Homo sapiens: one gene and its partners. The protein of the gene in region 1 interacts with the protein of each later gene in a pairwise test. Each region holds a gene or a part of one and is shown on either strand. Other genes may lie near its edges. The genes, in order: CCDC57, USP15, PRPF18 and PRDM6.

Region 1 (7,028 bases):
TACCTTGGTTTAGGAAGGGGAGGGGAACTCAAAGGCAATAATTCTACAGAAGTAAAAACATGCAAGAATCAAAAGAAGCAAATGGTTACAGAGCGATAAACAATTTAAAAGACAAATGGTTACAAAAAGCAACGGTACCAGGTGCAGGGCTCTAAATCCTTCATTATAGTTAGACATAGATGCTATGCCGGACACGAACTCAAGGCTTTATGTTGTTATCTCTTTGAGAAGAATCCTGGGAACTTCAGACGTTGTTGGTGCCAGTACCTTATCAGTTAATTGGGCTCCTTTGAAATGCTGAGGATCTGCTTACACAGGTCAACTCCTTGCGGAAGGGGGTTGGGTAAGGAGCCCTTAGTGTCTTGTAAATTAAGGGGTCAGTTGGAGTTTGTCCGGCTTTCCCAGCTAGAGAGAGTCTTATTTACATGAGAAACAAGGCTAGGTGATTAAAGAGACAAACAGGGCAAAATTTAAAGTAGCGAGTTAGAGTAAAAACAGGGTTAGGCATCGCACTGTCTCCGTTTCTAAACTGCCAGTTGAGGTGCAGGTTCTGTTCGCATCCTCTCCACCCCTGAGCGCAGCGTGTGAAGCTCTCCTCCTGGGAGCCCAGGCCAGCTGGCCTTGCCAGGGAGCACGGAGGAGCCAGCGGGCAGTCAGAGCGTCCTGGGAAGGGCCCAGATCTTGCTTCAGGTTTGTGTTCATGGAGTGCAGAGTAGGGAGCAGGCTCTGCGTCCCTCAGGGTGGCTCCACAGGAGAGGAAGCTGTGCCTTTTGCACACATCTTGGCTGGACTCAAGGTTGAGTTGGGCCAGACCCTGGGACTTTGTTTCCCTCTCCCGTATCTGGGGTCTATGCTGGCGTCTGGAAGCAGGTGTTTCCTCTAATGTGTCTGGTGTTCTAGTTGTTCACAGCCGCAGGGAAAGACTCATGGCAGTGAGTCCCTCCTGGTCAGAGGCAGAAGCGCCCCTCACCTTTGGTTAGAGAAGGACACTCCCTCTCCCTAGGAACTGGGTGGGCGGGGCCTGTCTCTCCTCCTGCACCGGAGCCACCTCACCTCGTTGTCCTCCCGCCTTGGTGGCTCCTTGCGGGGTCTGTCATCCCTATGCCTGCCCTTTGACCCTAGGGTAACATGTCTCTTTTCTCGGGTTGCTTTTAGAGTTTCCATTTTGTTGCTGATTTTTCAGCAGCTTGATTATGTGCTGTTTGGTATGATTTTCTTTCTGTTTATCCTGCTTAGGGTTCACTGAGCTTCGTCATCTGTGATGTCGGCTTTCAGCTCATTTGCTTCGTCATCTGTGATGTGTGGCTTTCAGCACATTTGTAACATGTCTGGCCTTGTTGTAGACGCGTCTCCTGTCTTTGCGTTCATCTGGGCTCCTGGTTCCTTGTGCACCTTGTTCATGGTCTCCAGAGCTCTGCTCATTTTTTCTTCTTTGGCACCTTTCCTTCTGAGCTTCAGTTTGGGTATTTTCTGTTGCCAGGTGTTTATATTCACTGCCTTTTCTTCTGCGCGCTCTGAACCTGCTCTTCATCCTATTTAGTGGATGTTTGATTGTACTAAAGTATACATAACGCAAAACTGGCTGCTTTAACTATTTTTTGGTGCACACAGTTCAGCAGCATGAAGCGCATTCACACGGAGGTGCAGCCATCACACCACCCTCTCCAGAACATTCTCATCTTTCCATACTGAAGCTCTGTCCCCAAGAAACACTGGCTCCCCCTCCCCGCCCACAGCCCCAGCACCCCCATTCCACTTTCTGCCTCTGTGGATTGGACACTCTAGGGATCTCAAAAGTATGAAAGGCTCCAGGAATTTGAGTGTCATATTTGCACTTCTGTCAGAAAGGAGGGGCATCACAGCCTGGGGATGGGGAGGGACCACAGCCCAAGCTGAAGCGGGGGACCGGCCCGAGAGGGGCGCGGGGAGAGCGGAGGCACAGCCTGTCAGGACAAGCTGGGGAACCATTCATCTTTTTGTAGCCATTTTTCCTTGTATTTGACAGATGCTTCTCAGGCAGCATGAAGAAGAAATAAGTAAAGACTTTCCATCCAGTGAGATCCAGCGGCTCCGAGAGCAGAACACGAGCTTGCGAAACGCGATTGCCCAGATGAGGAAAGAAATGGAGGCTCTAAGCCATCAGATTCCTCCTCCCATCCAGACAGCGGCAGAGAGCACAGATGCAAACCAGCCTGACCCAGAGGCTGGGGGAGATGCCGCCACTCCTGGTGAGTAAGTGGGAGAAACGGACAGAGCGGGAGAGGAAGGGGGAGAGGGAGGGAGGAGGACAGACGGGAGCATGGGTCTTGACTGGCTTCAAGGAGGCTTCATTTCAGAGTCCTATAAGTTAACATCCCCTGTAATAAACTCAAAGTATGAAAACTGCTTTTTCTCCAAGAGAAGGGATCTTAAGTTTTATACCAAAAAGCTTTTATATTTGTAAAGTGGAAGGAAAAAATGAGGGTACCTGCTTGACACACTTAAAAACCTGTTTTAGACCTGGACCAGGGCTGGCTTGCTGTCGCGCTGTCCCAGAATGGGTTGGTAGCAGGGGCTGGTGGACCTCAGTCCTTTCCTCCAGAGGAGCGTCTGTGGCAGAGCTGATGAGGGCCTCCCGACCCCCAGGGACCCCATGAGTGGCTGTGGGTGGGCAGATGCCGGGATGGAGGCAGAGCTTCCGTTCTCGAGATGGGACTTGGCCCCTCTGCACAGAGGCACGTGGGCTGGCGGCAGGTGGAGCATTTGCTCCTGATCACTGAGCCCTTCCTGGAGAGCATGGAGACTGTGCTGGTCTCTGGCTGGCACACTCTGGCCAGTGAGGGGAGGGAAGGTCTTTCAGTCTGACACACACAGAGAGTGTGGAAACTACGGTGAAGCTGTAGTGTGAGGAGGACAGGGACAGTGAAGCTGGCGGGCATGAGCTGGCATCGGCTCCCTGAGCTGGTGCTCACAGGAGGGAGGTGCGAAAGGATGCTGTGTATGTGTTATATTCACTGGAGGTTTTTTTGGCAGATTATGTTCTGGCCCTTGAAGCAGAAATACGAACTCTAAAGCATAAGTTTAAAACTCTGGAAAAGCATCTAGAAGATGTGTTGGATCCTTTAAAGATGTCCTCACCTCATGCTGAGTCTCAGCCCAGCGTCCGCACCTCGACAGAGACGACTGGTAAGTCCGCGTCTCAGTGGGGTACTTGCTGTCCCCTTATAAACTGAAATCTGACCCCTGCAAAAGTCCGCTCATAGCAAATATACAGCTCAAGGCTACTGCAGACGTTGGGGCGGCGTCATCCAGCCCAGCAGCCCCTTGTGCTCCCTCCAGAGCCCACGTGCCCTGGCTCCTCACTGCAGTCAGCGTTCCCTGTTTTGGTGTGAATGGAATTCCTTGTGCTCCCTCCGGAGCCCACGTGCCCTGGCTCCTCACTGCAGTCAGCGTTCCCTGTTTTGGTGTGAATGGAATTCCTTGTGCTCCCTCCAGAGCCCACGTGCCCTGGCTCCTCACTGCAGTCAGCCCTCCCTGTTTTGGTGTGAATGGAATTCCTGGAGCTACCTCCAGAGCCCACGTGCCCTGGCTCCTCACTGCAGTCAGCGCTCCCTGTTTTGGTGTGAATGGAATTCCTCGCGCTCCCTCCGGAGCCCACGTGCCCTGGCTCCTCACTGCAGTCAGCGCTCCCTGTTTTGGTGTGAATGGAATTCCTTGTGCTCCCTCCGGAGCCCACGTGCCCTGGCTCCTCACTGCAGTCAGCGCTCCCTGTTTTGGTGTGAATGGAATTCCTTGTGCTCCCTCCGGAGCCCACGTGCCCTGGCTGCTCACTGCAGTCAGCGCTCCCTGTTTTGGTGTGAATGGAATTCTGTGGCACCTGTGCTTCTGTCTGGCGTCTTCAGACCTACACTGTGTTTCACTTGATAATGCCAGATTCTTCTCCAAAGCATCCATCCACATCGTGCGAGGTAGCCGTGGTGCTGCATGCGCGCCAACACTTACGTGGTCAGCGGCTCCTTCTGTTCCCTCTAGTGGACACGTAGCACATCCTATTTTGGTTTAATTTGCAAATTCATGAGATTCGTGGGATTGAACATCTCTTCCTGTGTGCATTGGCGTATGATTGGCTAGGGCTGCCGTAACTCAACACCACAGCCTGAGTGGCTTAAACAACGGTTTTATTTTCTCACTTCTGGAGTCTGGATGTCAGAGATCAGGTTGCCGGCAGGGTGGGTTCCTCCTGAGGCCTCTCTGTGGCTTGCAGACGGCACCCTCTCCCCTGCGTGCTCATGTGGACTCTCCCCCTGCGTGCTCACGTGACTCCTCCCCCGCTGCATGCTCACTCCTGGTGTCTCTTCCTCTTTTTTTTTTTTTTTTTTGGGACAGAGTCTTGCTCTGTTGCCCAGGGTGGAGTGCAGTGGCATGATTTTGGCTCATTGCAGCCTCTGCCTCCCAAGTTCAAGCGATTCTCCTGCCTCAGCCTCCTGAGTAGCTGGGATTACAGGTGCATGCCACCACGCCCGGCTAATTTTTGTATTTTTAGTAGAGATGAGGTTTCACCACGTTGGTCAGGCTGGTCCCGAACTCCTGACCTCGTGATCTGCCTACCTGAGCCTCCCAAAGTGCTGGGATGACAGGCGTGAGACACCGCGCCCGACTCTTCCTCTTCTTGTAAGGACAACAGTCCAGGGCCCCAGCCTTAGGACCTCATGTAACCTTAGCTGCCTCCTCAGAGGCGCTGTCTCCAAATACAGTCATGTTCGGGGTGAGAGCTTCAACCCGTAAATTTTGGGGGGCAGAGCTCAGTCCATAGAATTGGCCTTTCGACAGCCCCTCTTTTGGAGCTCCAGGCCATGTCTTTTGCCCATTGTTTATTGGATCATCTGCCCTTTGTCATAGATTTTTTTAGGGTATTTTATGCTGAATATGAGCCTAGCGTTGGTTATATGTGTTGCAAATATCTTCTCCCAGTCTATGGCTTGCCTTTTATTCCTTCACTGGTGTCTTTGGTGAATGGAAGGTCTTAATTTCAAGACAAACTCATAGGCTAATCTATTCCATTGTGGTTAGTCCAACATCAAAAGGTTCATTCTAGCATTCTAGCTTTCTTTTTCATTATTCTAACTTCCTTTCCCAATAATGAGAAACCTGGCTCGCCCATTATCACTAACACAGTTACTTTGATCGAGTCCTCTTGGTGTAACCAATCCCCCATTGCTGCTGTGGCCCCTTCCCCTATTTGCAGGCCCCTCTCCTGCCTGGATGCCTCCCCAGCATCACCGAGCTTGACAGCCCAGCCTGGCTGCCTTCCACACAGATGCCTTCACCCTGCTGGAGCCACAGCCCCCCTTAGTGTAGGGGAGGCAGGCCCCATCTGCAGGCCTAAGGCAGGAAAAGAAAGGGAGGGGCCAGACAGGACACTCCACTGGCACAGATTGTCTCAAATAGGGGAGGTTTTTGCCGGGCGCAGTGGCTCACGCCTGTAATCCCAGCACTTTGGGAGGCCGAGGTGGGTGGATCACCTGAGGTCGGGAGTTTGAGACCAGCCTGGCCAACATGGTGAAACCCCGTCTCTACTAAAAATACAAAAAAATTAGCTGGGCGTGGTGGCAGGCACCTGTAATCCCAGCCACTTGGGAGGCTGAGGCAGGAGAATCACTTGAACCCAGGAGGCGGAGGTTGCAGTGAGCCGAGATTGCACCACTACACTCCAGCCTAGGTAACAGAGCGAGACTCCATCTCAAAAAAAATAAAGTAAAATAAAATAAGGGAGGTTTTATTTTTCTTTTCCAATGCTGATATTGTTTACTTCTTCTTGCATTATCGCCCCTAGCTAAACTCTCCGGTATGATGTTGATAATAGCTGTCTTTCTCCCTAATCCCAGAGGAAGAACTTTCAGCATTTCACTTTTTTAGGTTGAGTTTTTGCTGAAGGTTTTTTGTGGTGGGGGTAGTGGAGGGAGGTTAAGGAAGTTTCTTTCTATTCCTGTTTTAATATAGATCTTTATTTTTTAAATCACGATTCTTTGTTTTTGTTTCATATATTTTGTATCTTTGTTGTTAGATGTGTATACATTTAGGGTTTTTTTTTTTTAGGATAATTGACCCTTATATTGTTACGTAATCTTCCTCTTTGTCTGGCAACATTCTTTGTTCTGAAGTCTACCTTGTCTGATATTAATTAATCCACTCGGGCTTTCTTTTGATTAGCATTCGCGTGGTATAACTTTTTCATCCCTTTTTCTTTTTACCTACCTCTCTCTTTTATATTTGAAATGAATTTCTTGTTTTTTGAGACGGAGTCTCTGTTGCCCAGGCTGGAGTGCAGTGGCACAATCTCGGCTCACTGCAACCTCTGCCTCCTGGGTTCGAGCGATTCTCATGCCTCAGCCTCCAAAGTAGCTAGGGTTACAGGCATGTGCCACCATGCCCAGCTGGTGGCGTTTGTATTGTTAGTAGAGACAGGGTTTCACCATGTTGGCCAGGCTGGTCTCGAACTTCTGGCCTCAGGTGATCCACTTGCGCTGGCCTCCCAAAGTGCTGGAATTACAGGCGTGAGCCACTGCGCCCGGCCTAAAGACAAAAACTGTTGAAAGCACACAGAGAGAGCGATGCACAGCCCACAGGGGACAGTGACTGGAGCGGTAGTGGGTTCTCAGCAGCAGCTGTCATCAGATTTCTCCTCAGAAGGAAGTGGCATAATATTTTTCAAGTACTGAAAGCAAAAAACTGTCAACCCATAATTATACATTCAGTAAAAATATTCTTCAGGAATGAGAGTGAATAAAGACATTCTCAGATGAAGGAAAAGTTTGTCACCAGCAGACTGGATCTAAAAGAACTGATAAAGGAGGTACTTTAGACACAACAGAAGGAAGGAAACTAGGAATGTCAGGAGTGAAGGAAAACTAATGGCAAGGATGAATATGATAGACATTCTTTCACACTTAACTCTTAAAATTACGTTGACAGGCCGGGCGCCGTGGCTCATGCCTGTCATCCCAGCACTTTGGGAGGCCAAGGCAGGTGGATCACCTGAGGTCAGTAGT
Region 2 (6,514 bases), on another chromosome or scaffold:
CAAAAAAAAAGTAAAGATGGGAAAATTACTTATAGTATTTTTTTTTAATTTGAGAAAGAATTCCTGTAGGTCTCCCTTAAATAGTGACTTTGGTAAAGCTTTTTAATTTCTAGAACTCAGAGCTATATTCACTTTTGAGCTATGTACCTATTGTATAAGTTGAAGTAATACTGCAAATTCAAACAGTAAACATCATTAATCCTAGATATTTGGGTACTACCTACAGTGAGATATGGTAGGAAACATTCTACACTTACAACAACTTCCACCATAGCTAGCTCCAAACAGGTCATTAACCTCTGAATTACTGTTTTCACAACCATAAAATTATGCTGGTCTCTTGAAAGTATTAGTTTATGGGTGTGGAGAGGAAGGCTTAAATTTCATTTTTGAAGCTGTCGTTAAAAGTATATATTTTTAGCAAAGGAATTAATAACTAATAGCATTGATGAGTCAAGTTAATATTTGTTTTTGTTTTTTTTTTTTTTTAATTTTGGGCCTCACTCCTATAAAAGACTTGGAACAGAAGTCTTAGTATGATGGTAAACTTGAAAATTAAAATTTTATCAGGGATATTAGAATCCAATTATATGAGACTGCATCCTCAACAGGCACCTTGGTTGCAACACCATGAAAGACCTTGATCCAGAGGTTCTCAGCAAGCCACACCTGAATTCCTAACCCACAAAAACTGTGAGATAACAGATGTTTGTGTTTTTAGCTGCTAAGCTTTAATTTGTTTATGCAGAAATAAGGGAAAAGGACCCTAGAGATCCTTGAGGAATCCCACTTTACAGATGTAGAAGCTGAGGGCTAGAAGGAGAAAAGTCATGTACACAAAGTCTGGAGACAACTCAGATAGTCACTACATCCTCTTGCTCTTTCTCATTTTTACTCTTTAACTGGCTCCTCACTTTTTAGATGGATGGCACTGGGCTCTGGAGCAAACCATCTGTTCTGTATCTGTTAAGGCCTCTAGAGCTTCATTCATTCCTTCATCAAATATTTTTTGAGTGTCCACTATGTGCCAGGCACTATTCTAGATTCAAGATATAAAGTAATATACAAAAACAAAATCCAGTTACAAATATAATTTTTAAAGCTATTTGTGAGCATAACTTCGTAACACATTTAGAACCTTTGCCTTCAGCTGACATGAATTATGTTGTCTTTTTGTTTTTTGGTCCAGTTTCATTAGTCATTAAAGTCATTTGAATTAAAGACAATAATCCAGACTCCAGAGGTTATGGCTTTTATGTGTTTGGATACTGTCATAGTCTGCTCAGGCTGCCATAACAAACACAGACTGGGTGGCTTAAATAACAGAAATTTATATTTTCACAGTTCTGGAGGCTGGGAATCTGAGATCAGGGTACCAGTATACTGGGTTTCTGGTGAGGGTGCCTTTCCTGGCTTACAGATGGCTGCCTTCTCACTGTGTTCTTGCATGGTAGCAGAGGAGGGTCAGAGAGGAGAGCAAGCTCTGAGGCATCTCTTTTTTATAAGGGCACTAATCCCGTCATGAAGCCCTCACCCTCATGACCTCATCTAAACCTAATTATCTCCTAAAGACTTCCTCTCCAAATACTATTTAAGGCTTCAACCTGAATTTGGAGGTGACACAGTTGAGCCCATAGCAGATATATTTAGTAACAACTGTGGGTACAGGCATGCCTCAGATATTGCAGGTTCGGTTCCCAGCCACCATAAATATTTAAATAAAGTGAGTCACAAATTTTTTGGTTTCCCAGTGCATATAAAAGGCATATTTACCCTATACTGTAGTCTATTAACTGCAATAACATTGTGCCTAAAAAAGATGTACATGCCTTAATTTTCAAACTATTGCCAAAAAATGCTAAATAACCATCAGAGCCTTCAGCAAGTAGTAATGTTTTTGCTGATGGACAGTCTTGCCTCATTTTGATAGATACTCACCAGGATGGTGGTTGCTGAAGGTTAGGGTGGCCGTGGCAATTTTTTACAATAAGACAGTAGTGAAGTTTGCTTCATCAATTGACTCTTCCTTTTACAAGAGATTTCTCTGGCATGCAGTGCTATTTGATAATATTTGATACCCACAGTAGAACTTCTTTCCGAACTTCTTTCACAATTGGAGTTAATCTTCTAAAGCCCCGCCACTGCTTCATCAACTAAGTTTATGGAATATTCTAAATCCTTTGTTGTCTTTTCAACAATGTTCACAGCATCTTCACCAGGAGAAGACTTTCCCCCCTTCTTTTCACAGATGTTGAGATTGTCAAGAAACTACTTTCCTTGCCCACCCATAAGAAGCAACTTATCATCTGTTCAAGTTTTATCATAAGATTGCAGCAATCCAGACACATCTTCAGGCTCCACTTGTAGTTCTCTTGCTATTTTCACCGCATCTGCAGTTACTGCCGCCACTGAGGTTTTGAACTTCTCAAAGTCATGAAAGTTGTAATTAACTTCTTTCAAACTCTTGTTAATGTTGATATTTTGACTCCCATGAATCACAAATATTCTGAATGAATGGCATCCAGAATAGCAAATCCTTTTCAGAAGGTTTTTATTTTGCCCAGATCCATCAGAGGAATCACTATCTATGAAAGCTTTTGCCTTATAAAATGTATTTCTTGGATGATAAGACTTGAAAGCTGAAGTTATTCTTTGATCTATGGCTGCAGAATGGATGTTGTGTTAGCAGGCAGAAAAACACTAATCTCATACATCTCCATAGAGCTCTTGGGTGACCAGGTGCACTTGTCAATGAGCAGTAATATTTTGAAAGGAATCTTTTTCTGAGCAATAGATCTCCGCAGTGGGCTTAAAATATTTAGTAAACCTTCCTATAAACGGATGTGCTACCATCCAGGCTTTATGGTTCCTTTTATAGAGCAAAAACATTATATTTAGTTTAATTTTAAGGACCCTAGGATTTTTGGAATGATAAATGAACATTAGTTAGCATTGCATTGGCCCCTAACAAGAAATCAGTCTCTCGTTTGAAGCCAAGCATCAACTTTTCTCTAGCTATGAAAGTCCTGGATGACATCTTCCAACATAAGACTTTCATCTACATTGAAAGTTTGTTTTTAGTGTAACTACCTTCATCAATGATCTTAGCTAGATCTTCTGGATAACTTGCTGTAGTTTCTACTTTAGCAGTTGCTGCTTCACCTTATGCTTGTCTGTTGTGGAGACAGCTTGTTTCCTTAAACTCCATGAATCAACCACTGCTAGCTTCAGACTTTTCTTCTGCAGCTTCCTTACCTTAGCCTCCATAGAATTGAAGAGAGAGGGCCTTGCTCTGCGTTAGGCTTTGGCTTAAGATAGTGTTGTGGCTGATTTGATCTATTAAAAAAAAAAAAACTCAGGCTTTCTCTATACCACTTTTCTTATGATTCATGTGTTCACTTGAGTAGCACTTTTAATTTCAGGAACTCTTCCTTTGGATATACAACTTGGCTGTTTGGCTCAAGAGGCCTAGCTTTCAGCTTGCCTTGGCTTTCAACATGCTTTCCTCACTAAGCTCCAATCATTTATAGCATTTGATTGAGAGAGAGAGAGAGATGTACAGCTCTTCACCTGAACATTTAGAGGCCATTGGATGGTTATTAACTGGCCTGGTTTTAATAGTGTTATGTCTCAGGGAATAGGGAGGCACATGGAGAGGGAGAGAGATGGGGAATGGCCAGTGGAGCAGTTGGAACACACACGTCTGTGCCCTCAAACAAAACAGTAACATCAAAGATTACTGATCACAGATCACCGTAACAGATACAATAATAATGAAGACATTTGAAATGTGAGAAGTACCAAGATATGACACACACACAGTAAGCACATTCTGTTAGGAAAATAACACCTATAGATGTGCTCAATGTAGGCTTGCCACAAGCCTTGTTTGTAAAAAAACAAAAACAATTATCTTCAAAGCATGATAATAAAGTGAAGCAGAATAAAACAAGGTATGCCTGGTTTTTGTTTTGTTTTGTTTTGAGACAAGGTCTTTCTCTGTCACCCAGGCTGGAGTGCAGTGGCACAATCTCATCTCACTGCAGCCTCCAGCCTCTGGGCTCAAGTGGTCCTCCCACCTCAGCCTCCGAAGTAGCTGGGTCTACAGGCATGTGCCACCACACCACACCTGGCTAATTTTTGTAGAGACCAGGTTTCACCATGTTACCCAGGCTGGTTTTGAAGTCTTGAACTCAGGCGATCCATCCACCTCGGCCTCCCAAAGTGCTGGGATTACAGGCATGAACCACAGCACCTGGCCATGTATTTTCATTTAACCAGTACTAAATAACTACATGTCTTTGGCAGCCTATAATGTAGCATCCCATTTTTAAAAATAGAAGTGTGTATTCAGGGTGCACTCAATAGGATTACATCTGGCTGGCAGTCCCTTCCTACTTCAGTCCATTATCCTGCTACCAGAATGATCTTCATGGTTTCATTTAAAAAAAAAAAAAATGAGATCCTGTTTCTGTCTTAAAGTTCTCTTCTAATTCCTTGTATTAATCAGGATTCTCCAGAGAAACAAGACCAATAGGATGCATATGTGTATACACATATATGTATAGCTCTCTCCCTCATATATACACATATCATGTATATACATATATATCATATATGTACATATATATATATATATATGAGGGAGAGAAAGATTTATAAGGAATTAGTTCATGCACTTAGGCTGAGAAGTCTCATGATCTTCAGTCAGCAGGCTGGAGACCCAGGAATGCCAATGGTGTAGTTCAAGTCCGAGTCCAAAGGGTTGAGAACCAGGAAAACCAATGATAAAAGTTCCAGTCCACAAGCTACCTGGCTAAAGACCCAGGAAGACTGAATGTTTCAGTTTTAGTGCAAAGGCAGGAAAAGACTGATGTCCCAGTTCAATCAGGCAAGAGAAATTATCCTTACTTGAGCCTTTTTTGTTCTATTCAGGCCTTCAATTCATGAGAGCCACCAACATTAGAGAGGGCAATCTGCCTTACTCAGTCTACTGACTTAAATGTTAATCTCATCCAAAAACACCCTCATAGATATGCCCAGAATAATGTTTGACCACATATCTGGGCACCCTGTGGCCCAGTCAACACATTAAATAAACCATCACATCCCTTCATGTAGAAAAGAGTGGTTTGGACCATAGGCTCAGGAGTTAAACCACCTCTGAGCCTACCACTTTTGTGCAACTCACCTCACCTCTCTGCCTTTCACCTCTCTGTAAACTAGAGCAGCTCCCGAATGTCCATCTAGGAAGGCTTGGGGTGAGCAACCTGATTAGAAGGGAACAATGTGACTTAAAACTGCATATTTGCTTAGCAAACCTATGACTTTTCTCAGAATATACAGTTTGCTTGTGATGGAGGGCTATTAATATTTATAAGGAAACCAAATCCCCATTCACTTAAGCCATCCACTCCTACCACTGTAATTGAATATTACCTACCTTTCAGAATAATTGCAAGGTTTTGTGTCTTGATCATTATGAAAAATGTGGCAGGTATTATTACTAATAAAGAAGTACCCAACTATGGGAATGATTGTTCCTTCCTTATGAATGAGAGCAGCTCTCTGTTCAATACGATTCATACTCAAGTTCTAATAAACTTTCTTTAGCAAGAGAGCAAAGAGTATGGTACAGTCAGTCCACCCAGGTTGCCTGTTAACCTGGTGCTTGAAGGAAAAAAAGTAAGAATTTGCCCTCATCTAATTCCTCACTTGCCCTCAAACATGTCATACTACTTGACAATGGGGCTTTCCCACATTTGTCCCACATTTGCATGGTCTGCCTTATCTCTTACCTGGCGAACTCCTACACTCCTTCAAGACTTGCTCCAAAATGCACTTGCTAGATCTTCTGACATCAACTGCCACCTTGGGCTATAAGTTACGTGTGTCTCTTCCCCCACTAGACAATTACCTGATGGAAGAATATTGTTCTTAAGATGTTAAGATGGTGTATGTGTGGCATAGTATTTGTTCCTAAATGTAAAAGTTATTAAACAAGTTTTCTGAAAGTCTGAAGCTTTATTGTGTTTATTGTGATTGTGTTGTATTCCTGACATGTTGCTGGCTACATATTTTAACAGCTTTAAAAGTAATTTACCTTATGAATGTGCACTAAAAACGTACATTTTAGATATACTAACATTTTAAGTTCGGTATTTATGAATTTGGAATATTCAAGATTAAATGTAGAAAATTTATATTTCATTTATATTTTTCTAAAGAAGTTTTAATTGTAAGGAATTCTTTTTTCCAGTAAGGAAGATACAGTTGCTATCTCTTGCTCCAGTTGGAGGGCATCCTGAATTCCCATTTGTTCAGACGCTTTTCACAACTTGGAGCTTCTGGCATCTCCACAAAAATAATACTTTGACTACACAAGGCCAGGAATACTTTTTTGAGTTGGGGATACCCCAAACATTTATCTGTTCAATACAGTTGTCCAAAGACAAGGAATGTACTCTTGATTTGGGTTCTTTGTCACCTCAAAAATCTATATTACACCTTAGAC
Region 3 (7,028 bases), on another chromosome or scaffold:
TTACATGCTACTTACATGATACAAAATTGCTTTTTAATTAAGATTATACACTAACACTCCAAAAGCAGCACTATAGCAAAAATCAGACAGCAAGATATTGCCAAGCGTTGGCAGGGCTGGAAAGACAGGGGACCCTCACACTGCTGGGTGTAGACTAGGACAGCCATTCCAGAGAGTAACTTGGCAGTACTTAGACAAGTTAAATATACATATATAAATCCCACAATCCCACTTTGCTAGGCCATCGTGGTTATGCACAAGACTGTTCATCAGGAAGCTGTTTGTGGTAGGAGAGAGCTGGGAACAATCTAGCTGTCCATCATTACCGGAGAACAAAAAGTCAAATGCAGTGAATGGCGTAACACATGGAATCCTATGTAGCAATTAAAAGCAAAGGATTCAGTGTACACAGAGCATCAAGGATAGCTCTTAAAAACATAGTGCTAACTGAAAAAAAGAAAAGTAAAACACGGAATAAAGAATTTCACAGCATAACATCATTTATGTAAATCAAAAATACATGCTCACAAAACACTGCAGGTCACAAGAGCACCAACAAACAGAAAGATGCATATCCAACATATTAGAATGGGTTCCTTTTGAAGGCAGGAAGTAGGGGAATGTGAGTGGAGGATGAGAAAAAGGGGAGTAAATAAATAAAAGCGAGGAGTAAATAAACAAAAGACCAAGGACAACAGTGTGCTCTGCCCTCAACAATCTGCCCGACTCAGTCATCTGCTCCAGAGGAAAAAGAAGGGTGCCAGGGATGTGCTGGGCTTGGTGTAGAGATTACCTCTAACTCTTCAATTGTGGTGTTTTCCTCATGAACTTTCAGATCATTCTGTGTGTCTTCCTCTCCAGGCTCCTGACCGCCGACGATTTCATTGAGGTACTGCTGATCAATCTTATCCAAGGCTGCTTTCAAATCATTCCTCAATCCCTAAGAAAAGCAAAAAAAGGAAGAACACCTGTTATGAAAGGAAGAACACCTGTTTTTTCACCTTTGATTTTTCATTAATAACTGCAAATATTTTTTCCCCCACAAGAAGAGTTCAGCAAAAGTAGGGACTCAAATCACATCAATTTATCACACAACTATCACTACTGTCCATTTAAAGTTAATTCTTACGGACCTATTTAAATTAAAACAATGCACAAACAATGGCCAGTCTGCTGGTCAGAAAAATAAAATACACGTGAGTGACAAATCCAAGTAAGAATCTTCATCAATGCTGTAATTTTCTAATGAGGCTTAGTGACAGTGGCAGGTCTCCATTAGAGTCCCCAACCCGTTTGCCCAGCTCATTTACAATGTCTAACCTCAACTACTGTGAACTCCCAAAACATTCAGAAACATCAGTGTAATAAAATTGGTGCCTCATCTATATCCCAGGTTCTCAACTATGTTTCTAGCAAACCAGCAAATTCGCATTTTATGCACATATGGTTCATGACCCTTTAATGAAAATGGAAGCCTCATCTTCCTAAAAATGAATGAGAATCAGCTGCAAGGTTTAAGAGCCAAGGAAACATGGCTGTGAGGCGGCTATAGGGTAATGGTTGAGAGTAAAAGCTATCTGGGTTCAAATCCTTGCCACATACTATTAAATAGCTCTTTGAAAGCTTGCTTAACCCCTGTGTGCCTCAGTAGACTCACCTACAGAATAGGAGTAATGGCACCATCTACTACGTAGGGCTGTAATAAGGATGCTATTTTTTATTTCAGTGAACAGTTACTATGTGATGCAGCTGTTCCAGAACCTCGCAAACATCAAGTCACGCAAGTAAGCTAAGAAATGGACGATGAGCTTTGAACAGTTACTGGAGCACGGTGCACATTCAACCAATGTTAACTCCTAACGTTCTCACACAAAAAGCATCTGATCATTGTCTCCTGTCCCTTCATAAACACAGAAGAGAAACATTCAACTCAAAACACTTATAATTTCTCAAACACTGACTGATCACCTGCTGTGTAAAAAGTATGACGCCAGGCATTCCCAGAGGTCACCTCATCGAATTCTCAGTGCATCCCAGTGAGCCAAATATCACTGCCTCTGTTTTACCAATGAAGATTCTAAGGTTCAAATAGAGTAAAAGACTTGCCAACGGCCAAATAATTGATTACTATAATCCAGGAATGGAATCCAGACCTTGTGCTCCTGTGCTTTGTCCTCAAAACCTCTAGATGCACGGCACAGGACTTGGCATACAAAGGTAAAACAGCCTTTGCCCACCAGGAAGAGATAAATATGCACATAACTCTAATAATAGCGAAAAACAGTAAGTACACTAACAAAGGTTTACTCATAGGCACATGGAGAAGGAAGCAATTAATTCTGACTGGGACCAAAAATAGATTCCGAGAGAAGATGTGGTCACTGAATTGCATGTGAAAGTATAAAAACAAGATTTCAACCAGAGCATACAAGGCAGAAACACAGCAAGCAAAGGAAAAATGATCATTACAGACACAGAGGACTGAAAGCAACTGCTAGTGTTGTGGGGCTGGAATGACAATGCTGGGAAGTAAAGCAGGAAAGTGGTTTGGCAACAAAGAAAGCAGTCAGACAGCCCAGGCTAGCAGACAGAGCAGGTCGGGGAGCGGGCCTGGCCAGCCCCAGCTGTTCCTGCCATTCCAACTGAGACGCCAGGAAAGGGGCAAGATATCAGCTTAGAAGACCAGTCCAGAGGCAGCCTCACATGATTTCGGCCGCAGCCTTCATCTGACTGCAATCACAATAAAGACCCCAAGCAAGATACTGCTCAATCCAGCCCAATAAAACCACAGAACTGGTAATTATTAAGACAATAACAAATTATCTTAAGCTATCAAGTTTCAGGGTGGCTTGTTAATCACCAAAAACAGATTTGGTAATGATAAATCCTTTATAATAAATAAACAAACACTAGTAAGTTTTGGAGTAGTCTGTTACATAGTCATAGGTAACCACACCTGTCTCTCAATAATTGAGAAAGCAAGTAGATAAAAAGTTAGCAAGGCCAAAGAAGATCTGAACAACACTATCATCACTGACATTTGTAGAACTGTACCATGAAAGCAAAACAATACTCTTTTCAAGAGCCCATGGAATAAACCATATGCTAAGCCATAAAACAAGATCAGAGCCTTAAATGTAAAGCAAAAACTATAATATTAAGCTTCTAGAAGAAAATTAAGAATATATATTTGAAATCTTGGGATAGGCAAAGATTTCTTAAGCAGGACACAAAAAGCAATGACCATAAAAGGAAAAAACAATAAATTGGACTTCATTAAAATATAAAACTTCTGGCCCGGGCACTTCGGGAGGCCAAGGCGGGAGGATCCCTTGAGTAGAGGAGTTCAAGATCAGCCTGGGCAACATGAGGAGGCCTCATCTCTACAAAAATTAAAAAATCAGCCAGGCATGGTGGCACACACCTGTGGTCTCAGCTACTTGGAAGGCTGAGGTGGGAGATCGCTTAAGCCCAGGAGCTAGAGGTTGCAGTTAGCCATGATCATGCTGAACTCCAGCCTGGGTGAGAGTGAGACCCTGTCTCAAAAAGCGTGTGTGTACACACACACAAACTTCTGTTCAGCAAAAGATTCAATTAAGAGAACAGGTAAGCCCTAAACTACAAGAAAATAGTCACAAAAAATATTCGTATATCTGACAAAGAACTTCTATCCAGAATATACAAAGAATTCCTATAATCCATTTACAAAAAGACAAGTTTATTTTTAAAATGAACAAAAAGCGCCTGTAATCCCAGCTACTTGAGAGGCTGAGGTGGGAGGACTGCTTAAGCCCAGGAGGTTGCAGCTGCCATGAGCCATGATTATGCCACCGCATTCCAGCGTAGGTGACGGAGTGAGACTCTGTGTCAAAAAAATAAATAAATAAGGAAAGAAAGACTTTAACAGACACTACACAAATGAACACAACTTTATGAAAAGATGCTCCTCATCTTTAGTCATCAGGTAATGTGATTAAAGCCGCAAAGAGCTACTACCAGACACAAAAGAGAATGGTTAAAATTAAAAAGACTAACAATACCACATGCTGGGGTTTGGAAATGACTGGCATTTCTTATGAAGTTAAGCATACATCTACTCTTATTATCCAGCAATTCTACTTCTAGGTATCTCCCCAAGAGACCTATTTATTTACCCAAGAAAAATAACATAGTTCCAAAAAAAGATCTGCATAAGAATGGTCATAGCAGTTTTATCCCTGTTTTTTTTTTTTTTTTTTTTTTTTTGAGAAGGAGTCTCACTCTGTCGCCAGGCTGGAGTGCAGTGGCACAATCTCAGCTCACTGCAACCTCCACCTCCCGGATTCAAGTGATTCTCTTGCCTCAGCCTCCCAAGTAGCTGGGAATACAGGCACACGCCACTACGCCCAGCTAATTTTTGTATTTTTAGTAGAGACGGGGTTTCACCATGTTGGCCAGGATGGTCTCGATCTCTTCACCTTGTGATCCACCTGCCTCAGCCTCCCAAAGTGCTGGGATTACAGGCTTGTGCCACCACGCCCAGCCAGCAGTTTTATTCCTAATAGCCCAAAGCTGGAAACAAATTTTGATATATTCATACAACTGAGTATCACTGGAAAATGAAAAGGAAACCAGTGGTATCTGCAATAACATGGATGAACCTAAAAACTGATATGCTGAGCGAAAGAAGCCAGACACACAATCTATGAGTCCATCTGTATGAAATACAAGAACAAGCAAAATTAATCCATGATGACAAAATTCAAATGGTGGCTGCCCAGGAAGGGATGAGGAGAAATATGAGGATAGGCTGAGAAGGGGTACTGGGGAAATTTCCTTTTTCTCTTTTTTTTCAACTTTTAAGTTCAGGGATACAGCTGCAGGATGACAGGTTTGTTACATAGGGAAACGTGTGTCGTGGTGGTTTACTTCACAGATCATCCCATCACCCAGCTATTGAGCCCAGCATCCATTCGCTATTCTTCCTGATGCTCTCAGGGAAATTTCTTTGGTGACGAAAATGTTCTATTTCTTTATAAGGGCAATGGTTATATGCTTGTATGTATTTGTCAAAATGCATTAAATGTTATACTTAAGATATGAGCTTTTCAAAAAATTAATGAAAACTTCCATTCAGCAGCAATAATCTGCTCACTTTACTTTTCCATTGTTGCCTACAATAATGCAATTAGTCAAACTCTATTCTAGTGAATGCAGTACAGTGGTATTTTTCTAGCTTTGTTCTGTCCTCTTACCTTGTTAACTTCTGGTGTGAGGATCTCTATTTTCCTTAAACGTTGAAAAGCATCATAATCAGTCTCTCCAAATAGTCTGATTGGTTCTCCTCTTTCTCTCAATCTTCTGATGACCTACAAAGTGAAACAGATACCCAGTAAATTTTTTTTTTTTTTTTTTTTTTTGAGACAGTCTCACTCTGTTGCCCAGGCTGGAGTGCAGTGGTGCGATCTCGGCTCACTGCAAGCTCCGCCTCCCAGGTTCAAGCGATTCTCCTGCCTCAGCCTCCCGAGTAGCTGGGACTACAGGCGCCCGCCACCACACCCAGCTAACTTTTGTATTTTTAGTAGAGATGGGGTTTCACCATGTTGGCCAGGATGGTCTCAGTCTCCTGCCCTTGTGATCCGCCTGCCTCGGGCTCCCAAAGTGCTGGGATTACAGGCGTGAGCTAATGTGCCCAGCTATTAAACTTTTGAGAGAGGAAAAAACTAAACATCTCAAAAACAATTTGTATATTGTACCTTAAAAGCCAAGCCTGGGTTTAATAAAAGCTAATTATCCAAATACATGCCTCTGTGTAAAGTATAAAATCCTTCAAATATTTTAGATCATTTCAATTAAGCTAAACAAAGATGTTTCCAAATCAAAGAGAAAATCAAGTACTTTAAAAATCTATTTTGACTCAAAAGTCACTGTTATTAATTTTATCACTGAACAGCTCCTAGAAAGTGGTCTGACCTATGACTCTACAATTCAAGTCTAAAGAAAGACCCTAATATAAACCACCTCTTTTACTGTGAGATTTTTAAAAAATTCTTTTTTGTAAGAAAAGGGGCATGTCTGTGGCCCTCATTTTACATAATTATAACTGTTCTTAGTCTTCTTTTAAAAACAATGGAAAGACAATAGTAATCCCTTATGTCAGCATATTTTTGGTGATCAAACACTTGTTTTGAAATGTAGATGAAAAAAGTAATCTGTTTATTCTTTTAATTTTCCATAAACAGATATACTGTGTTACCATCACACCTTAAGTAACCATAAAGTTTAGGTCGTTTAGCTCACTGCTTCGATAGGACCAATCTGTGTGGCAGGACACACAGGAAAAACACTAAGATGGGAGGGAATGACAGCATTTATAGAGAGAAGGAAAATCAAATCTGAAGCCAGCTGATAATTACCATAATGGACAGTCTGCATTGTAATACCACCATGAAACCAAAAACTTCTCCCTCAGAAAACAGGGAGTTATAATCTGCATATGCAGAGCTTTTAAGATGCTGAAAATCTATTTCCAAACTTGGGTGATGGTTACATGAATATTTATTTTATAATTATTCATATATGTGTAACAAACATATATTGCCCTAACATGGTTCATACACTTTATATACATGCTATGTATGTCATTTTAAAAAGGAAGAAAGAAACAGAAAACGTAATAAATACTAGTCCAAATTTTTTAAATAAAGCAATAATGAGAAACACCAAGAGCTTTACCTGGGAGCATAAATAGCATCACACCTAAAATCCATTGAGAGGGCTCCCAGTGGATTAACAGAAGTTTGAGATTAAAACAGAAATTTAAGAGGTCATCTAGTGCTATCTCCAATCAATGCAGAAATGACCTCACAAACACCCTTGTCAGATCCCTGGCTGACAAATGGCAGGAATCACATTTCTTCGTGAAACATCCCATCCCATTGTTTAGACAGAGATGTTTTGCTTCTCAAAACTGAAATCTACTTCCCCCAAACTTCTACCCATTTATCCCAGTTCCACTTTATGAAACTACAGAGAATATTCTGATTTTC
Region 4 (7,028 bases), on another chromosome or scaffold:
GCAAGTATTTTAAATTATGAAATAAAAAGATTTTTAAACTGCCTTGGAAAAGGTATGTCTTACTGCTAAGTGAAATATAGCCATTGCAGGCTGAGAATGCTTCATCAATCTTGCAATTTCACTTCTGAATTAAATATATGCTAGAGAAGTCACCAGCAGTACACCCCAAATCCCTGGCTGTGTGCTGAGCTCCTGTACTGTTTACAATGCAGTCTGGAAAATTAATACGTTTTCACCAGAGAAAACAGACTAATTCGAGAAAGAATTAGGATAGATTCCTAATTAATATATGGGTATTGAACCAGTTTATTGCCTGGGTAACTTTTTTCTCTGGTTGGAGAAAATAAATTACAATTTTATTTAAATAATTTATATTGTGTTAATCTTCTGGTATCTCCTTTTGAGCCAACTGGATTGTTTCAGTGTTTGAAGTGCAGGGGAAAAGACAGAAGGGAAAGAAAATTAGATTGTCCTATTAGAGTTACACCCCACGTTGCTCACTAATTAAAGGGCAATTGAGAAAGAAAATAGAAAGCTGAGATAGCGCTGTGTAATGCTGGGAGACGAGATCTCCCATTCTTCCAGGAACTTCTCTGGACAAGCAAGCTTAGGCACTCATTTGAAGCCATGGGATGTACTTTTACAAAGATGAAACGTGATTGAGTTTAATCTAAGTAGGGGCTTAAAACAAGTCAGAAATGCAAATAGTGGGAAACTCGTTTCCTTTGGCAGGGGAAGTTGGCATAATGGTTATTGAAAGGCTGTGAAAAACAGAAGCTTCTCCTCATTCTCGAGTTGTATGTGAGTGGAGGTGGAGTGAAAGGAAGGGTGGAGGCAGAGGGAAGCTCCTATTAATTTATCATGTATAGATTTCCCTAGTTTTTCTTTTAGTTTTTTTACCATCTCCCTCTAAAAGAATTCTGTGAAGTGACCACTTAGCATTGCTTCATTTTGTCACTTCGTACTTAAAAGGATAGGTATTGAGTTGTTTTCTCTTTTTCTCACAAGGCGAAATAAAAAGGGCGGGATGCGGGGGTGCCTCCTTACTTCTCCCTTCCCTTTAGCAAAGTAACTTTTTGCCTAGGATCAGCAATACATATCATTGCTCTGTAAGAAAAGAACTTAGGAACACTAGTTTCACCTTGAAACTTTATTGGCATCTATGGTAAATGTCACAGTGATGGGGCTTGTAGCTCTCTTTCGTTCTAAAAGATTTTAAAACAGCAGAAACTGCAAGCTACCCGGGTGAGCTTTTCCAGTATGTTCCTAACTCCGTATCAGTTTACCCTGTGACTGAAGTACAGTTTCCACCGAAGCTCTGAATGCTTTGCTGTTGCTGCTGCTGCCGCCTTCTCTTAAAAATCAAGTGGTGCCTCCTGCGATATAAATGGGGGATGGGGCCCTTCCTTCCCCGTCTAATATTACTGCCCTCATTTGCTGCTGGGCTGCCTGAAGCCATTGATTTAGTCAGGCTCCATCGGAGTGGCCTCTTCCCGGGTTCTGGGAGCTGGTGCGTTGCCTGCTCTTGAAAAGTAGAGAGAGACAGTCACAGGGCGCGCCTGGCGTTTCTGAGTAGCATCCCGGCTGTTCTCTCAGCACAGCCCATTAGTTTTTCAGGCCTTTTTTGTAAAGATGTGCTTCCCTAGGACCTGGGAGGGAGGCGGGAACTGAGCCACTTTGGGTGTCTCGGGGGAGAGTTGGACCACTTTGCAAATTCCCCAGTTGGGGGAGGGGTCTCTGTCCCCTCCCGATTTACTGGAACCCTCCTGCGCAGGGAACAGGCTGGAAACAGCGCCGGTGTGTGCATGGGTGTGGGAGCGGGGCTTGAGGCTTCCTTGTTGGGAACACCAGGCTTTCCAAGGGTTTAGGGAGAGGGGCTGGGGAGAGAAAAGGGAGTCTGGGCCTAACACTGGTTTGTCCGGTTGCTTGCTAAGGGGTCAAGGAAAGAGACAAAGGAGGGCGAGTGTTTTCTGACCTTCCCTAATCCCTTCCCACCCAGGTGGAAAACGCAGGTCCTGTTTGGGCAACTTCGAGCCCAGTGGCACACCAGCAGGCTTTTTGTGCAACCGAGGAACATCCACTGCGCCCCTTCTGCCCTGCGCCTCCTCTGTCAAAGACCAGCGAGCGCCTTAGATTGCAGACCTGGTCCGGGTGGGAGGGAGCTTTGGCTTCAGTGCGTGGGCTTTTGTGTTTCTCTCTCTCTCTCTCTCTCTCTCTCGCGTGTGTGCAAGCCCAGCCTCATCCCATAACACACATGATTTAGCTATTTTACATCTTTCGTTATCTAGCGCCCTGAAACCGAACATACAGCCATATATTAGATTGAGGTTAGAAGAGGTGGCGACTGTTTATTCAAGGTGATAAAATGGTCCATCAGCAGTAATCTCCATCGATATGTGCCACCAGGAGATGAAGGATGAGGGGACAAGCCACAATTAATTGCCCTATAGTTTTGTAGGAGAGAGTGGAGCCAGCCCAGACCCGCTTCGATCTCCTCTCGCGGCTCCTATTCATCATCTCCGCATTGTATATGGCAGCCTCGCAGGGGCAGGGGCCGGCGAGGTTTATCTCTGCGCAATATTCTCTCACCCTCACAAACTGGCGCTCCCATTTAATTTATTAATACAGTCATCGGAAGACAAATAAGACCCACATTTTCTCCCTCCCACCTTCTTGCTCTCTTCTTTTTGTCTCTCCCTCTTGGTCCCAGGGTCAAGCCCGCAGCCAGGCAGGGCAGAGAACGCCCAGAGCTTTTGCGATTCGCGGGGAGCTTTAAACTCGCGTAGAGGGAGAGTTCCTGAGAGAATTCCCAGGAGCTGGGCCGCCCCGCAGGGTCGAGACTGAAATCAATTGGCTCCCCTTCCGGCGGCCAGGCAAACCTGCCTCGCCTCTGGATCTGCTTCTAGACCCGCTCCCGGGGCTTGGAAGACCCCTGCCGGGTAGAGGAGGAGGGCCGGGTGGGTGGCGGGGTGCAGTGGGGACGTCGGATCGTGGGTGGTGTCGGCGGCCACGCCTCATGTCAGAAGAGAGCCTTTCGTGGGCAGGAGCGGGGTGGGACCTTCAAAACTCAGCCTTCGGCGCTGAGGCCTGGGCGCCCCACCCCGCCCATCGCTCCCTTTCAGCCATCCCATCTAGCCTATAGCTCGAGAAGGCAGTGGGGGGACCGCAGGCTGGAGCCCCGGGGGCGTGAACCCCACGCGAGAAGTTCGGGCCCGGATGCTCTGCCTGCCCGCCCTCTGCCCGGCTCCCCAGCCCCCACGCCCCTCCCCGCCTAGGGCGCACGCGGCACTGCCAGCAGGCGGCACTCCCGGGTCCTAGTCGCCGGGCTGGGATCGATGGGCGCCGGCCCCTCGGGTCTCGGCCTGCGAGACTGAGGGCCGCGACCTTGGCGGCGGTAGGGGAGGATTTACAGCCGGGGTGGATAGTGGCGCCCAGGCGGGGAAGCAGGCTTTTCACCTACTCCTTGCTTTCCTATATGCAGGGCGGGTGAGAGCCAACGAAGGCGTCGGGCAGGTACTGGGGAGTGAAGATGTGATGTAGCTCTCACTCCCCACGCGCCTACACATGACTGTTGGCCTCTCCACACACCAAAAGCCCGGAAGCGTTTTATATTTCACCTTTCCTAGAACGAGAAATGAAATTCCAGAAAAGAAAACCATGGCCTGCTTTGCCGCCTTTACCTTAAAATAGATATATTGTAAAGATCTATTGCACTTTAAAGACATTGAAACAACACAGAAGGATAGGAAATGAAGAGTGAAAGTCTGCTCTTAACTGCACTTGGCCTGGCCTTCTGATGCCAGGAGGCGAACAAGTCTGTAACCTAATGACAGCACCTTCCTTTACTCAGAGACGCTTAGACAGGAGCATTGACAGATTTACTCAAGATAGAAGAGTATTTATGAATAACAATTATGAACTTGTACAAAAACTCTTCCCCTGATTTTAAGAGAAAGTATGAACATTTACTTGCTTCCTTGTTAGGAACCTAAGTAGTTGTATTATGTATTGCTTGGCTTGGAATGCTCTGTGTGTGTATATATAATATAATGACATATATTATATACATTTATACATAGTTTGGTCCTCTCATATAGCCTGCTTCTCTTTCAAACCTTTTCATGTAGGTGTTTATACTCTGCTAGAATGTTTGTCTTCTTAAGCATATTTGTCAATCCCAAGAAATGTTACTTGTTTTTAATATCCTCAAGCTACCCTGAGACTCAGACATAAGTTAGAACCCAAATGTTTCAGCTGGGGGATTTTGTGTATTAAAAAATAACATTGGAATATAACATGTATCTTGATGGCAGTTGGTCAACTTTTCTGGCAGAATATTTTGATATAGCATGAAGTGGTTCACAAATTAAGAAGACCCCTGTTGGGTGGACTAATTAAAGTTGATTGACTTTGTCTAGCCTGCTGTGGACCTAACACACAGATAGTCTTCTAGATATTGGGAGAGCCTCAGTTTTTCACTTTTAATAGTAGCATAATGCTACTATTAAGTTTTTCAACTCTTTATGGAGACAAATGAAACAATAAGTTGAAGACGGCTTTAGAGGACTTCTTGGAGAAAGGCCTTAGCCACAGTTTTATTATCATGCATTACAAATATTAGAAGTGTGCTTTTTGTCTATGGAGGTAGTGGCTGGAGTTGGTACCTATGCTGATGTCGTTGATGGGATGACACGTGTGGAGAAGCATGTTGGAAGTTGACTGTCTCTGGCACAGGCTGCTAGGGAATGAAAACTAAACACTCTTCTGACCATTTGCATCATTGAGTCAAGCAGAAAAAAAAATCAGTTAAGTAACTCCCTGGAGTGACTTATTTCTATTTCCATGGGCATATTGCCTTTGCTTATTGTCATTTGCTTTTAGCTATTTTTGCAAAGGTGCTGAAAGGCTGTCTCTGAAGTCAGACAGTAACATTCAAAATTATAGACATTATCTATGTATTTTCCTATCCAATCTCTTACTTTAATGTCCGAAAACACAAGAGTGTGGGAAAGAGAGAAACCTCTATAACTCAATCATGCTACAGCAATTTTCATGGCCCCCAAAGTTACTTCAGTGAAATATTTCAATTCAATTGAGTCATGAGTTTGAATGTTAAATTTCCCCAGCTTTCATTAGTCTTTTAAAAATCTCTGGGTTTAGAGGCCTTGCAGTCAGGCAGCCTTGACTGTGAATCCTTTCTCTGCCACTTTCTAGCTTCTGGTTCTTGGTGGAGTAGTAGTGCTTGGGAATTGCTTTATCTGCAGAATGGGAATCATGATACTTAGATAATATGCTGGTTTTTGGTTCTAGACAGGTGTCTGACACATGGTATGCACTGTAATTGTGTTTATTGTCTTTCATGTAATTCCCAAAATGTCTTGAAGTTTTTATTTTCACAATCAATAAGCTTGAGAGGGTGTGTGAAGTGTGTGTGTTTCAGAGGAGTTGACATATGGATAAGTGTGAGAATACTCCCATCCAGGCCCTGGGGTCAAAAGCAGAGTCTGGGAGAATTTTAACAATAGTTTGTGTTGCTGGCAGAGGAAGGACAGAAGAGGGCCTTTGTGCAAGGGAGGCCCAGCGGCATGGACACTTCTCTGCTTTCCGAAACAAGTTGTTGCTTTTCACTTCAGAGGTCTGGGGACATTTCTGAGAAGCTTGCAGCCCTCATTCTTCCAGCTCTCTTGGGAGGAGTAGAGGAGTAGCTGCTGACTGAGGCAAAGGTTTGGCTGGCTAGAGCCCCCTCCAGTGAGACAGGAGGCTTACATAGTCAGCCCTCCTTTGCTGTGAAGCAAATGGCAAATCGAGGGCTCCCTTACCATGCTGGGTTGCGATTAGCTGTTCCTGACACAAACGTTTCATACAGACTCACAAGTTTCTTGGGCATTTCGGTCATTTCAGCGCAGATAGGGCACATCCAGGGTGATCCAACAGGCCTGGCTGCGGCCAAGGCTGGCGGCGGCAGGTACCCGGGTGCCCCGAGGGCCACCCGCCGCCCCGCTCTGGCGCATCCATCAGTGGCCAGCTTTCACCGTGTCTGCCAGGCGGGACTCGCCAGGTGTCAGGCTCAGTGCCATAAGCCTGACACTTGCGCGGGGTCGCCGTGGCTCCTCAGGGAAGCTGGGCCAAGGAGGCTGGGTCGCGCCGGCGGGCGCCGAGGCCACCTTCTCGGGGCAGGCCATCCGCGCTGAGGCGCAGACACGGCGGCTCCTCCAGGCCCATTAATAACCCGGAGGGCGCTGCGATCCGACAGCGCAGTCGCCACAGGCTCTATTTCCCGTGGCCGCCTGCCTCCTTCCAGCCCAGTTCGAGTGGAGGGATACTGGGCGCCCACTACCGCCCGGCCCGGAGGGTGGGGGTCCCTCTCGCGCAGGCTGCTTTGGAGAGTGTCGGAGAGAGACAGCTTTATCTACAGCTTCACCCATTGTATAGCACAACAGAATCGCATTTAGCCTGGAGAACAGCCGTCGGGGCAGGAGTTGGTGCCTTCTCTAACAATTAGGCTGATCGTTAAATTTGCTATTCCTTTCTTCCGGCGTCTAGGGAGAGCGTGCACACCAAACCCTCCAGAACAGCACCCCGGTCCCCCACCCCGCCCCACCTGTCCCCGCCCTGCTTCAGTGCCTGGAGGGAGAACTGACTGGTCGCTTGAGGGACCCCATTTCGGGCGCGCCCTTGGAGTCCTGGGGCTGCGGCTCCTGCTCTACCGGGCTGCAGGCTTGCTCTGCCCCGTCCCGTGGCGTTTGGGAGGCAGTCGAGGAAGCCTCCGAGTCTCTGGGTCGAAGGAAGTGCGAATGGCACCCGCGATAGACTGGCCGTCTCCCCCACCCCGCCCCGTCTGGTGATTTTAAATCGTCTCCTGTGTAATTGTAAAAAGAGGAAAGCTGAATACCCAGACGACCAGTATAGAATCTCTTCGAGACAGCAGATTGGGCAAGAGACGGGCTTTTTTTCGCAATACAAGGATAAACACATCCTGAAACTCCAGATAGAAACCTCAGGAATGGGCGAGAGGGTCAGAAGGAACG

The links.
Region 2: the proteins of CCDC57 (region 1) and USP15 interact in binary tests that used the Homo sapiens proteins (3 or more experiments, as listed by UniProt).
Region 3: the proteins of CCDC57 (region 1) and PRPF18 interact in binary tests that used the Homo sapiens proteins (3 or more experiments, as listed by UniProt).
Region 4: the proteins of CCDC57 (region 1) and PRDM6 interact in binary tests that used the Homo sapiens proteins (3 or more experiments, as listed by UniProt).

The regions. Positions count from the first base shown.
Region 1 is NC_000017.11:82,167,838-82,174,865, reverse strand, and holds part of CCDC57 (coiled-coil domain-containing protein 57), read left to right. Parts: intron 1-2,005; coding exon 2,006-2,228; intron 2,229-3,012; coding exon 3,013-3,165; intron 3,166-7,028. UniProt on the Homo sapiens protein: Pleiotropic regulator of centriole duplication, mitosis, and ciliogenesis. Critical interface between centrosome and microtubule-mediated cellular processes. Centriole duplication protein required for recruitment of CEP63, CEP152, and PLK4 to the centrosome.
Region 2 is NC_000012.12:62,410,376-62,416,889, forward strand, and holds the end of USP15 (ubiquitin carboxyl-terminal hydrolase 15), read left to right. Parts: 3' UTR 1-6,014; downstream 6,015-6,514. UniProt on the Homo sapiens protein: Hydrolase that removes conjugated ubiquitin from target proteins and regulates various pathways such as the TGF-beta receptor signaling, NF-kappa-B and RNF41/NRDP1-PRKN pathways.
Region 3 is NC_000010.11:13,603,951-13,610,978, reverse strand, and holds part of PRPF18 (pre-mRNA-splicing factor 18), read right to left. Parts: intron 5,349-7,028; coding exon 5,235-5,348; intron 941-5,234; coding exon 794-940; intron 1-793.
Region 4 is NC_000005.10:123,092,241-123,099,268, forward strand, and holds part of PRDM6 (putative histone-lysine N-methyltransferase PRDM6), read left to right. Parts: intron 1-6,986; exon of another isoform or gene 6,987-7,028. UniProt on the Homo sapiens protein: Putative histone methyltransferase that acts as a transcriptional repressor of smooth muscle gene expression.